2 separate regions of the Homo sapiens genome follow, and region 2 is linked to region 1. Evidence: fine-mapped expression QTL. A gene starts in region 1. The other region holds a variant in brackets. All regions are shown on one strand. Distances are from middle to middle. Region 1 holds the start of CD82 (CD82 molecule). Region 2 overlaps CD82 (CD82 molecule).

Region 1 (5,370 bases):
ACTGGGACATGGGGTTTTATTGGGAAACTTACACACAGGGACGGCCGGTGGCAGTGGGCTGGACAGGAGAACTGTACAGTCCCATGGCAGGCTGGGCAGGAGAGCCACAACCGCTTACAAAAAGCATGCAGTTTATACATCACTCTCACTTAGCACCCTCCCCCTAACAACCCCCACCTGATAACCTTCATTTGGCCCCAAACAAAGAGCTTTGAACCCCTGTACACCCTGCATTCCACAGGATGGGCCGGGGTTCAAATGTTCCTCACAGATAAGGAATGAATCTCCAGGTTGGTCATTCCCGGATTCCTTAGCTCAAAACTCCAAACACACATTGGGGTGCATCTGCCATACAGGACCATTCTCAGGGTATGCTTAAGTCAAGTTATTGCTGTCAGGAGCATCTGCCATACACCATCACAAACACCCCCAGCTCGGAGGGAGCGGGGTGTGGAGTAGGGTGGAATAGGAGGAATTTTATGCCCATTTTGCATGGGCTGGGTAGGGTAGGGATCTGAAACCCAGCCCAAGACAGAATGGCACAGTGGTTCTCAAAGTGTGGTCCCCGGACCAGCATCCACATCATCTAGGAGCTTGTTAGGATCTTAACCACTTGCAGGATAGAGGGTGTCTCTCTGCGGGTATGACACACTGCTGGGTTTAAAGGATTCTCCAGCCTCACTTTTCTGACTTGGTGTGGGAATGCTATGAAGGAGACTTTTTGCTGAAAAGAGAACATTTTCTGAGCATGTACGGCATTCAAGCGGTGGGCCAAATACTTTATGAATGCTGTCACATGTAATCTTCAACAGCTACCATCAAGATCGGTATGATTGTTATGGCTCATTTTATTATTATTCCCTGTTTAAGGGCTCATCCCAGAGGTTAAGTATCTTGCCTTGTCCTGGGTTTAAAACGCAACCAGGAAGCTACCTAGGTCTGTGTGATTCTCAGACCACCCTGACTTCTTTACAGTTTGCTCAACAGTGGTTCATGCTTGAATGTGATTCAGAATCACCTGGAGGCCTTATTAAAACCAATTGTCCCACAGTTTTCCATTCAGTAAGTTGGGATGGGGCTTCAAAATACGCACTCCTAACAAGTTCCCAGATGATGTTGCTCCTGGTTCAAGGACCACGCTGTGAGAACTACAGTGCTGGGCTGGGATCCAGCTCCCGCCCTTACTCCACTCGTACAAAGCGCTCATAATCATACCCTCCCACAACGGTGTGTTGTGAGAGGACATTGTGATAATGGAAGTGAAAGAGCTTTGTCAGCTGCACAGGTGAATGCCCCTGGTCATTAACCAGGTAATCTGCCTGAGGCTAGTCCTCTGGAGCCTGGGAGGGCAGAGGGCTGGGACGCAGGGTGGGCACCGCAGCCACCTAGAGAGCTCTTGCAGCCCACCTCAATTTTGGGCCACTTTTTCTTCAGGGAGAAAGCCAGCTTTGAGGGCTTAGGCCCACAGCCCCTCCTGCCACTATTCTCATCAACCCACACCTCCTCCCTCACCTCAGGCAGCTGCTGGGCACTGCCCCAGCACTGGTTGTTCTGGGCTACTTCCCCAGGGGCCAGTCCAGGCAAGCTGGGGCAGCTCAAGCCTGTGACTCAGGACCTGAGGCTGGATCCCGCTCACGCCCGCCTCCATGAGATTCAGAGCCCTCGACTTCCCTTCTCTGAGCCTTAAACTGCGCATTAGTAAAATAGGCGCAACGAGAGTACCCATGAGTTGTGGGAATTCAAGGGCTAGAACTGTATTCAGCGCTTGGCATAGAGCCTGGCCCCTGGCAAGGATTCAATCAATGGTAGTCAGTATTTTCAAAAAGTTCCTGGGCCCAGGCCGCCTCCTGATAGAGGCCCCGACTTAGGACACAAACCGCTCCCACGCCGTTCCCCGGCGGCACCCGGATACACCCGCCCTGGAATGCCAGCGTGGGGGCCCCAGGGCTACCCGCCCGAGATGAGAGGGGCAGGGCAGGGCAGGATTAGGAAGGCGCTGAGCCCAGGCTGGTGCGGGGAGGGGCGTGGCCTCACCCTACTAGGGCCGGGGGATGGGGTGGGCTCGAAGGAGAAAGTGAAGGAGGCGGGGGCGCTGGGAGGGCCCGGGAGGAGACCGGGAGGACGAGGTAGGCGGGAGCTGGGCGGGACCGTTAGGCAGCGCCGTGAGTGGACAGGGCTGGAGCGGGGCGGGCTTAATCCCCAGTGTAACCTGGGGGCGGGGCTGCCGGGATAGAGGAGAGACTCCGTAGCGGGGCGGGGCCTCAGCTCCAGCTGGGCCCGGGGGCGAGGCTGGTTGGGGTACGGCCATAGTGGGCGGGGCCTGGCCGGCGGGAGCGCACCGCCTTCCCAAAGGGCTCGGGGGCGGGGCCGGCGGAGGGGGCGTGTCTTCTGGGGGCGGGGCCTGCCGAGTCCGCGGCGTTCCCCGGCTGCAGCCGGGAGGGGGCCGAGGAGTGACTGAGCCCCGGGCTGTGCAGTCCGACGCCGACTGAGGCACGAGCGGGTGACGCTGGGCCTGCAGCGCGGAGCAGAAAGCAGAACCCGCAGGTGAGCAAGGGGGCAGCGGGCCGGGGTAGCCTGCCGGACAACCATAGGCAAAGTTAGTTTTAGCCCCCGCTTCTGCGGTCCGGCTCGGACAACTTTCCTCGGAACTAGTGACAGGTCGGGGCAGCTGGTGGGTGAAAAGGAGCTTTAGCCACCAGTCCTGAACCCCCAGTTCTCACACTCGGCCGTGCACAGCTGCGTGATCCTGGGTCCGTCCCTCTACCTGGCTCTGGACCTCCCGGGTTCCAGCAGGAGGAAGTGAACCAGGTGAATTCCACGCTCCCGTTGCCCTTTCTCACTTAAAACGCCGGAAGGTGAGAGCTGGCAGGTGAGAGCAGGCTGCAGGTCGCCACAGGTGTTCCCATCGCGTTGCCCTCTGCAGTTTCTCTCCCTGCAAAATGGGACTGAGAGAAGCGAATTGCTTTAAAGAGTGCACTGTTTCCTCGGTTGGGGCTCGAACCCACCAACCCTGGGGAAGAGGAGGCCAAAGCAGGGAGGTTCCATTTCCCGCCTCACCTGCTTCCCACCAATTCTAACAGTTCAACTGAGCCGGACCCCCTAAGACTTCAAGTTGGAAACTCAGTGGGGCTTTTCCAGGTGAGCTGGCCTGAGCAGGAGGTTGGAAACTGGGGAACAGTTCTTACACTGGTGAGTGGGGAAGAGAAGGGAAAACCCCACCAATCCTTGGGCCCAGGGTCAAGCCCAGGGCCCCAGGGGCCCTTGAAGCATACCCGGGGTTAATTTCTTGGCTGACGGGTTCTGTTCCTGGAGGTGGTGGGTGCTCTGTGCTGGGCCCCAGTAGCGGGGCAGCATAGTTCTGTGGTCAAGGCTTGGGCTTTGGGATCAAACTGATTTGGATTCCATTCCCCCTCCAAACTTCAGTTTCCTCACCTGTAAAATGGGGATAATGACAATATCCAATAGCAGGAGCAAGCACTAAATAGAATAATGTGTATACACTACTTAGCAAGGTGCCAGGAAACCAGTGAGACCTCCCTCTGTGACAGCTGCTTTGATGCGGGTGGGCAGGTGATGGGCTTGCTTCCTATGGGGAATGAGCCTTTTTTTTTTCTTGGAGAGATGGGGTTGGCTACAGCCCCTCCTGACCTTGTGAAAGCCAGAAATTGCCACCTGCCACCAACATCACTCTATTTGAGGGATGAGGACTGTGTCATCTGGAACAAAGAGTGGCTGAGTTTTCTGTAATGTTGCTTGAGGTTGGTAAGTGTTGAGTTAAATAAGTCTAAAAATGTTTACTGAGCACCTACTATATGCTAGAGAGAGCTAGAGGATACAGAGGTGAACTAGCCAGGCCTGAGTTGCTGACAATGAGGGCTCCCCCATCCCTACCATGTCCCTGTAGAGAGGATCAGTCACACCCAGGGCTTATAACCAGATGAGATTTCATGGGTCTGTTCTGCCCTGGTGGCTGGAATCCAGCTATACCATTGCACACTTGGCTTGGGATGGGGGCGAGGGGCAATGTGGGCACCCGATATCTAAGCAGGGTTGGACACTGAAGGACGCTGAAGGTGCTGCATTATATTGGCTCCCTGCATCTTCTGGGAGATAAGCTGTACAGTATGGAACAAACTGGAAAGTGCTGTGGGACAGAGACGGACTGGCGGCTGCGCTGTGTGCAGGAGACTGTGTGTGTATGTAGGGCAGGGGGAGGTGTTCAGAAGAGTGAGACACTTGAGAAGCCAGGGCAGGGGGTGGGGGTAAGGAGGCTTCCTGGAGGGGGTGAGACTTGAATAGGACTTTCTCTCTGGGCTCCTGGTCCTGGTTTGGCTTGGATCAACATGGGACCACAGTCTCTTCAAGCACTGAAGTGGCATAAATTGGAGTTTGGTATGGTGGGGAGGGAGAGGGTCTGGTAGGTGGTGCCTGAGGTGGGGAGGAGGAGACGTTCATTTCAACAGAGCCTACCTAGTGAGCCTTAATGGAAAGCCCTCCCCACCACCACCCCCACTTCCTGCTCGATGAATGACAAGCGACCACATAAGGCCTGCACCCTCAGGTTGCTTACCATCCGGGAAGGGGCTTACACAAGAATACCAGGGACTCTGATGGAAGATAAATGAAAAAAGGATTAGAGGGATCTTCAGGGCCTTACAGACTGGGAAGATTTCGGCAGCCAGAATGAAGATAGTGTCTTGAGGAGAGGAAAATGCCTAGGCAGAGGCAGGGAGGTCAACCTGTCCTGAGAATTCTCGAGAAACCTCTAGGTTGCTCATTCTGGCTGAAGTTTGGGAACGTGTGGGGATATGCAGTGGGAATAGTAGGTGGGATCAGCTTACGGAGGGCCTTGAATGACAGGATAAGAACTTTGGATCTGATTTGCAGAAAGTGGGAGCCACTGAAGGTTTCTGAGGAGAGGAGTGACACAACAGAGCAGCACTTTAGGAAAGTCAGTCTGTACCAGATGTGCTGGGGTGGAGGATCCAGCGGTCAAGGGATAATGAACCAATGGCTGCAGTGACTGGGAAGAAGGGGTCTGGGTGGCTTTGGGGATGTCTGCAACTGGGAGTGAAGGAAGAGACACCAGCCACAGGGAGAGCAAAGGCACCATTGGAGGGGTGGGAGGGGACTGTTCCAGCACATTTGCACTTCTTTCTCCTCCCTATCCTGTCTGGTACATAGCAGGGTCTCAGGAAGGTGGCTGGATTGGGTGAGTGGCGGGGTTGCTGGGAGGGTGATGAATGCTACAGAGGGGTTTGCCCATGAAGGGGAGGCATCTGGGCCGAAAGGTGGGAGCCTGTGCCAGCCAGCAGTAAGTTTGGGGGTCGGGGGCGGGATGGTTAGAAGAAGTGCCTGCTGATCCCTCCC
Region 2 (5,370 bases), 32 kb after region 1:
AACGGAACCTAGTTGGGGTGGTGAGGAGATTCCCTGCCATTCCCAGCTGGTCCTTTGACCAAGCACTGGATTCCTGACCCGGCCTTCCCCTCTCCTAGATCACCCAAAGCCTGGGCTGGCGGTGGGTATGGGGAAGGAGAGGAGAGCCCCTGGGCATCCCCCTAACTCAACAGCAGGAGCTGCTAGAAGAAGCCTCTTAGCATCTCTCTAGTCCTGTCCTGGCCCCCACCCTGCCCATGTGAAGAATTGACCTGTGACAGTTCCAGGCCCCAGTTGCCCCTATCACACCCCCGTCCCTGTCGTGGGAAGGTATCTCCCTGAGCTCTCATAGGGAGAGCAAGAGGGCGCCAGGCGTGGGGCCAGTGAAGGGCACATACCTCCTTCCCCAGACCCACCCCAGCAGATGGGCCATCCGGATGTCAGCTCTGTGGACATTGACTGCTGGTTTTCCTGGGGCCTCGGTTTTCCTCTCTGGCCTGGCATGGACTGCCTCTTGCCTTGGAGTTGCTGGGATGGTGGGGTGTGTGTGTGAGTGAGAGTGTGTTGTTGGGGGGCAGTGCCCTGGAGAGGACTTCATAGCCTCAGAGTAGTGTTGGGAGCGCTGGCTTCCCTGTGTTGACGGTTTAACCCTATAGTGTTAAAAAAAAATCAGGTTGTACAGTAGGATGTTTCTTATGATCCAAAGTTTTAAATGTACGTATTCATTAAAAAGTGAGTATTTTTGAGAGGAGAAGAAAATACCTCAATGTTAATGTTGGGATTCTTGGGAATTTTGATTTTATTCTTTATGCATCTCTGTATTTTCCCAATTTTCTACGGTAGATATTAATTACTTGTTTGGGGAACAGGGGGTTTACATTACAAGTTACATAGTTTATGGGAAGTTTGGGAAATAAACAAGAATCATTCTAAATTCCCCTTCTGGCCAGACATGGTAGGTCTTGCCTGTAATCCCAGTGCTTTGGGAGGCCAAGGCAGGAGGATTGTTTGAGTCCAGGAGTTCTAGACCAGCTTGGGCAACATAGCAAGACCCTGTTTCTCTACAAAAAAAAAAAAAAAAAAAAAAAGAATTTTAAAAATTCCCCCTTCACAGCTTTAACCCAATGCACAGACATGTACAATGTGTTCCTGGCACCCGCACACAAGTGTTCATACACGCATGCACACACACAGGAAGCCCTGGCGCTGCCTGCCTTGCTTTTTTTCCACCCTGGCCCCGGCCCTAGCTCCCTCCTGGAGGACCCTGTGAGGCCCCACTGTGGCTCTGGCCCTCTGCTCATGGCAGCCGGGCCTGGAACCCACCCCAGGCCGGGCTTGGGCTTCCCCAGCTTGGCGGTCAGGTCTCTCCTGGCTGCCCTAGGACTTTGGGAAGCAGCTGCCTGTGCAGGCAAAGCCAAGCTTTTCCTGGCAAGCACTTGGTGTCTGGGCGGAGACCCAGCATAAAGGCCAATGGGCCAGGACTCGGGGGAAGGGGTGCGTGGGCACTGTAGCTCTATCCCTGGGGGCTTTAGGGACTAGAGAGAGGAGCCTGGGCTCTGGCCTAGGAGATCACGGAGCTTGGGTTTCAGTGATAAAGAAACTTTCCTTCATGCAGTGGGGGTTGGGGAGACCCTCATAGAGAAAGGGAGTGGGGTTGGTGGTTTCAGCCAGGGTGGCCCTTTCTGTCCTGCTCGCAAGTTGCCCTGTGGAACCAGGGACTGGAAAAGCTGCTCTCTGGCCAGGGCTTGGCCTCCTTTTGGCTCCTCCAGGGGCTGGCAGGAGTCAGGTGTTAACTGTCTGTGTACTGGGGCCTAGGATGACCCATCAGGATGGTGGAGGGGGGAGGGGCAGCTTGTATGACAGGAGGGTGAGAGTGAAAGAGGAGGGCTGGAGGAGGCAGAACGGGCTTGTTTACTCCTCAGCAAATGTGTATCTGACACCTCAGCATCTTCAGATGTTCAGGGCGGAAGAGCCCTGATTGCTATACTTCCGGAGCTTGTGTCCTAGGGAGCAGTGGGCTTCCATCAAATAACTACTCAAATGCATGAAAAATTGCAGTTGTTGGGGGTACTAGGAACAGATAGGCTCTTCGGAAAGCAGATGAGGCTCTTGGCCTGGTCATGGAGGTCAGCAAAGGCTTCCTGGGGTTCTGGGTGTGGCTTTGGAGAGGGGGATCCTGGCAGCAGGGGCAGCCGGTGGAGGCAGAGTGCACCTCCCCAGGCATAGACCCGGCCAGCCTGCCTCTTTGTTTTATGCACATTGGGAGGGGTTTCGTGGTTGGATTTGTGGTTTGGAAAAATCCCCGTGGCTGCTATGTGTGCTCGC[G/A]CCTGCGTGCATGTGCACCTGTATGTCTTTGCCTGTACTCCCTCTGGACTCCAGACTCCCCAGCGCATTGCCACTTTTCTCAGGTCCAAAGGAATGCAGAGGCACTGGTGCTGTGGCTATGCTGGGGAAGGACGCTCACTGCTCTGAGGGTCCTGGCTCCTGATGGGTCCCATCTGGGGATTGGGGAAGGGCTGGGGGAGTGATTAACATGGGGCCTGCCCCACAGCTCCAGTCTTGGTTCACAGAGAAAAAGGGGGTGCCATGGTGCCTTGCCCATTCTGGTAGGCTGCCCAGCCTCCTTTCTGGCTCTGCCACAGCCCCGTGGCTAATCCAGCCACATCTGACCATCAGGCTGGGGTCATCAGACCTACAGAGGGACTGAATGGGTAGCCCCGGGGACTTTGCTCTCTGGGTTCCTCTTGGCAAGCTGAGGAGCCAGCTGAGTAGTGTGGGGTTTTGATCTACTTGGGATTATGTGTGCCAAGAGGGGATTTTCTGTCCTGCCTCCCATTCCCTTTTGGTAGGGGCTGTCCTCCCTCCTGTCCCACCCTGTGAATGTGGGAGGGAATGGGGCAGGGGCTCTGCCCACATGGGTCTGAGATGCAGAGGGAGCAGACGTGGGCCTGAGCACTGGCCCCTGCCTCGCTGTGCTGTGGGGTGGTTGTGGGCTGGGTAGGGTTGCAGGTCTTGGGGAACCAAACTCCCAGGTCCTGGAAAGCCCCCATTTCCCCCAGCTGTGCAAATTAAGGTGGACCCACCTTCCAGCAGACTCTTCTCCTCCCCAGTGTCTCAGGGGCTTTTCTGTCCCGAGACTGGCTTTCTGGGTGAAGGCCCAGGATGGATCCAAAATATCCCTATAGCTCACCTGCCACCATCTGGCTTCCAGTCCCTGATGGATAAAATCAAGGCCTCATATAAAATTCCGTGTGTATAAAATGAGGTCAATTACAAGGCCCGTCTCACTGGGAGAGAGGAGAGGACAGATAATACCTCAGTGATGATTCTGGTGGGAGACACTGGGGGGCAGACGTGGGGTGGTCACCGTGCCTTTGTGGTTGTAGTCATCAGTCACAGTGGTCTTTAAGGTAGCAAGTACAAGGGTAAAGGGAGAGAGGCAACCCCCTACTGAGCCACCTGGGCCCTGGGGCAAAAGGAAACATTGATAATACTGATACTGTCAACATTTTATTTCAAAGTTTAATAGTTCAGTTATCATGGATTTTTGGCCTTAATTTTTTTTTTTTTTTTTTTTTTTTTTTTTGAGACGGAGTCTCACTCTTGTTGTCCAGTCTGGAGTGCAGTGGCGTGACCTTGGCTCACTGCCACCGCCGCTTCCTGAGTTCAAGTGATTCTCCTGCCTCAGCCTCCTGAGTAGCTGGGATTACAGGACCCCATCAACACGCCCAGCTAATTGTATTTTTAGTGCAGACGGGGTTTTGCCATGTTGGCCAGGCTGGTCTCAAACTCCTGACCTCAGGTGATCTACCCGCCTGAGTTTTTGGTGCCTCCTCATGTGTTACACCTGAGGCAGGTGCCTCGTGCCTTGGGCCGGTCCTGGCTCTGGTCTTTGATAATGATAGAATGATTCTGATGGAGACCCTGTGCCCAGGCCAGCCCCAGGCTCGGGGCTCTATGGCAGCTGCTGGCCTCCAACCTGAGATTATGGGATGATGGCTGAGGTGGGAACCCAGGGCTGTGATACAGGTGGGAGTTTCAAGACGGGTCATCCACCAGGTGGGCCCAGTCCAGGCCCCCACTAATGGCCAGCCTTGTGGGTTGACACAGGGCCACCCCCACCTCCAAAGGGAACCTGCATCTTTGCCCAGATGGCAGGCACTTCCCCAGCCTTTGCCAGCTTTATGGGATGGTGGATCTTGGCTGGGACTCCACCTGGGGAGATGAGCTCAGCCCTGGTAGATGGGAGAGAGGCAGGGAATCCCTGGGCTTGGGATCCTTATTTGTAACACCTCATTCATTTTTTCCTTTTTGTGGGGGGCAGAGTGAGGGGGTCTTGCCCTGTCACCCAGGTCATGTCATGAACACAGTTCACTGCAGCCTTGACTTCCCTGGGGCCAAGTGATCCTCTCTTCTCAGCTTCCCCAGTAGCTGGGACTACAGGCATGCACCACCACATTGGCTAATTTTTGAAATTTTTTGTAGAGTCAAGGTCTCACTGTGTTGCCCAGGCTGGTCTCAAACTCCTGGGCTCAAGTGATCCTCCTGCCTGGGCCTCACAAAGTGTTGGGATTACAGGCATGAACCACCGGGCCTGACCTTCATTTCCCTTTCTAGTCCTGCATTTGCAGTTTGGTTCATCAGCTCATTCATTCCCCCAGCCACTTAGCACCCAGTGCTGTAGAGCTGCTGGGGATGCAGAGCTGCCTCCAGCCAGCCCTGCCCTCAGGGAGCTCACAGTTTAGCCAGAGAAACCAACACAGCAGTTAGACCCAGTCGGAATGACTGTTAAGAAGGGTGGGACAGTGGTTGCTGCAGAATGGGGGCACCCGAGTCTGCCTGAGGGGGTCAGAGAAGGCTCCTGTGGCAGGTGACCCTGTTGTTCAGACCTGGGGATGAGTTGGGCTTTGATGTTCAAGTCCACGGAGGGTCCTCCTCAGAGCCTTTCTTGTTTGGGAAGCTCCCAGGCCCTGAACTGGGTGGAGTCGGGGGGATGAGCTGAGAAAAGAGCCAGGAGATGTGGCAGGAAGGGTGCCCCTGGCAGGAGGCTGCACCAGGAGGCTTGGCTGAATCACACATGGTGGAGGGGGGCAAGATGGGAGGCAGGAGGGATTCCCTATCCAGGGTCCTGGTGTCTGGCTTGCTGCGATGTGGGACCGGAGGCCATCTGGACATCTCTGGGCTGGAGAAGGGTGGATGTGGTGCCCTCTGTGGCCCCCTGCCCTGCCCACCCTGACTTGGGTTCCAGGGACAGCTGGCAGGGGGAGGGCTATCTGCTCTTGGCTCCCCATTAACTGCTCCCTTCTCCTTCCAGATCCTGGGCGCAGTGATCCTGGGCTTCGGGGTGTGGATCCTGGCCGACAAGAGCAGTTTCATCTCTGTCCTGCGTAA

Evidence for each region.
Region 2: its variant is fine-mapped to the expression of CD82 in T cells (TOPMed, PIP 0.99).

Annotation. Positions count from the first base shown.
Region 1 is chr11:44,563,193-44,568,562 of GRCh38, forward strand. CD82 (CD82 molecule) reads left to right here and starts at 2,471. Exons shown (of 10, transcript NM_002231.4): 1 at 2,471-2,544. RefSeq lists a silencer at 1,970-2,569 and enhancers at 2,484-2,984, 3,490-3,559.
Region 2 is chr11:44,594,865-44,600,234 of GRCh38, forward strand. CD82 (CD82 molecule) reads left to right here. Exons shown (of 10, transcript NM_002231.4): 4 at 5,294-5,366. Among named protein-coding and RNA genes, the nearest start is that of CD82-AS1, 7.8 kb to the right of the region's middle. RefSeq lists enhancers at 1,359-1,937, 1,938-2,517, 1,941-2,180, 3,506-4,006, 4,007-4,507. The variant G/A (reference allele first, on the strand shown) is at 2,305.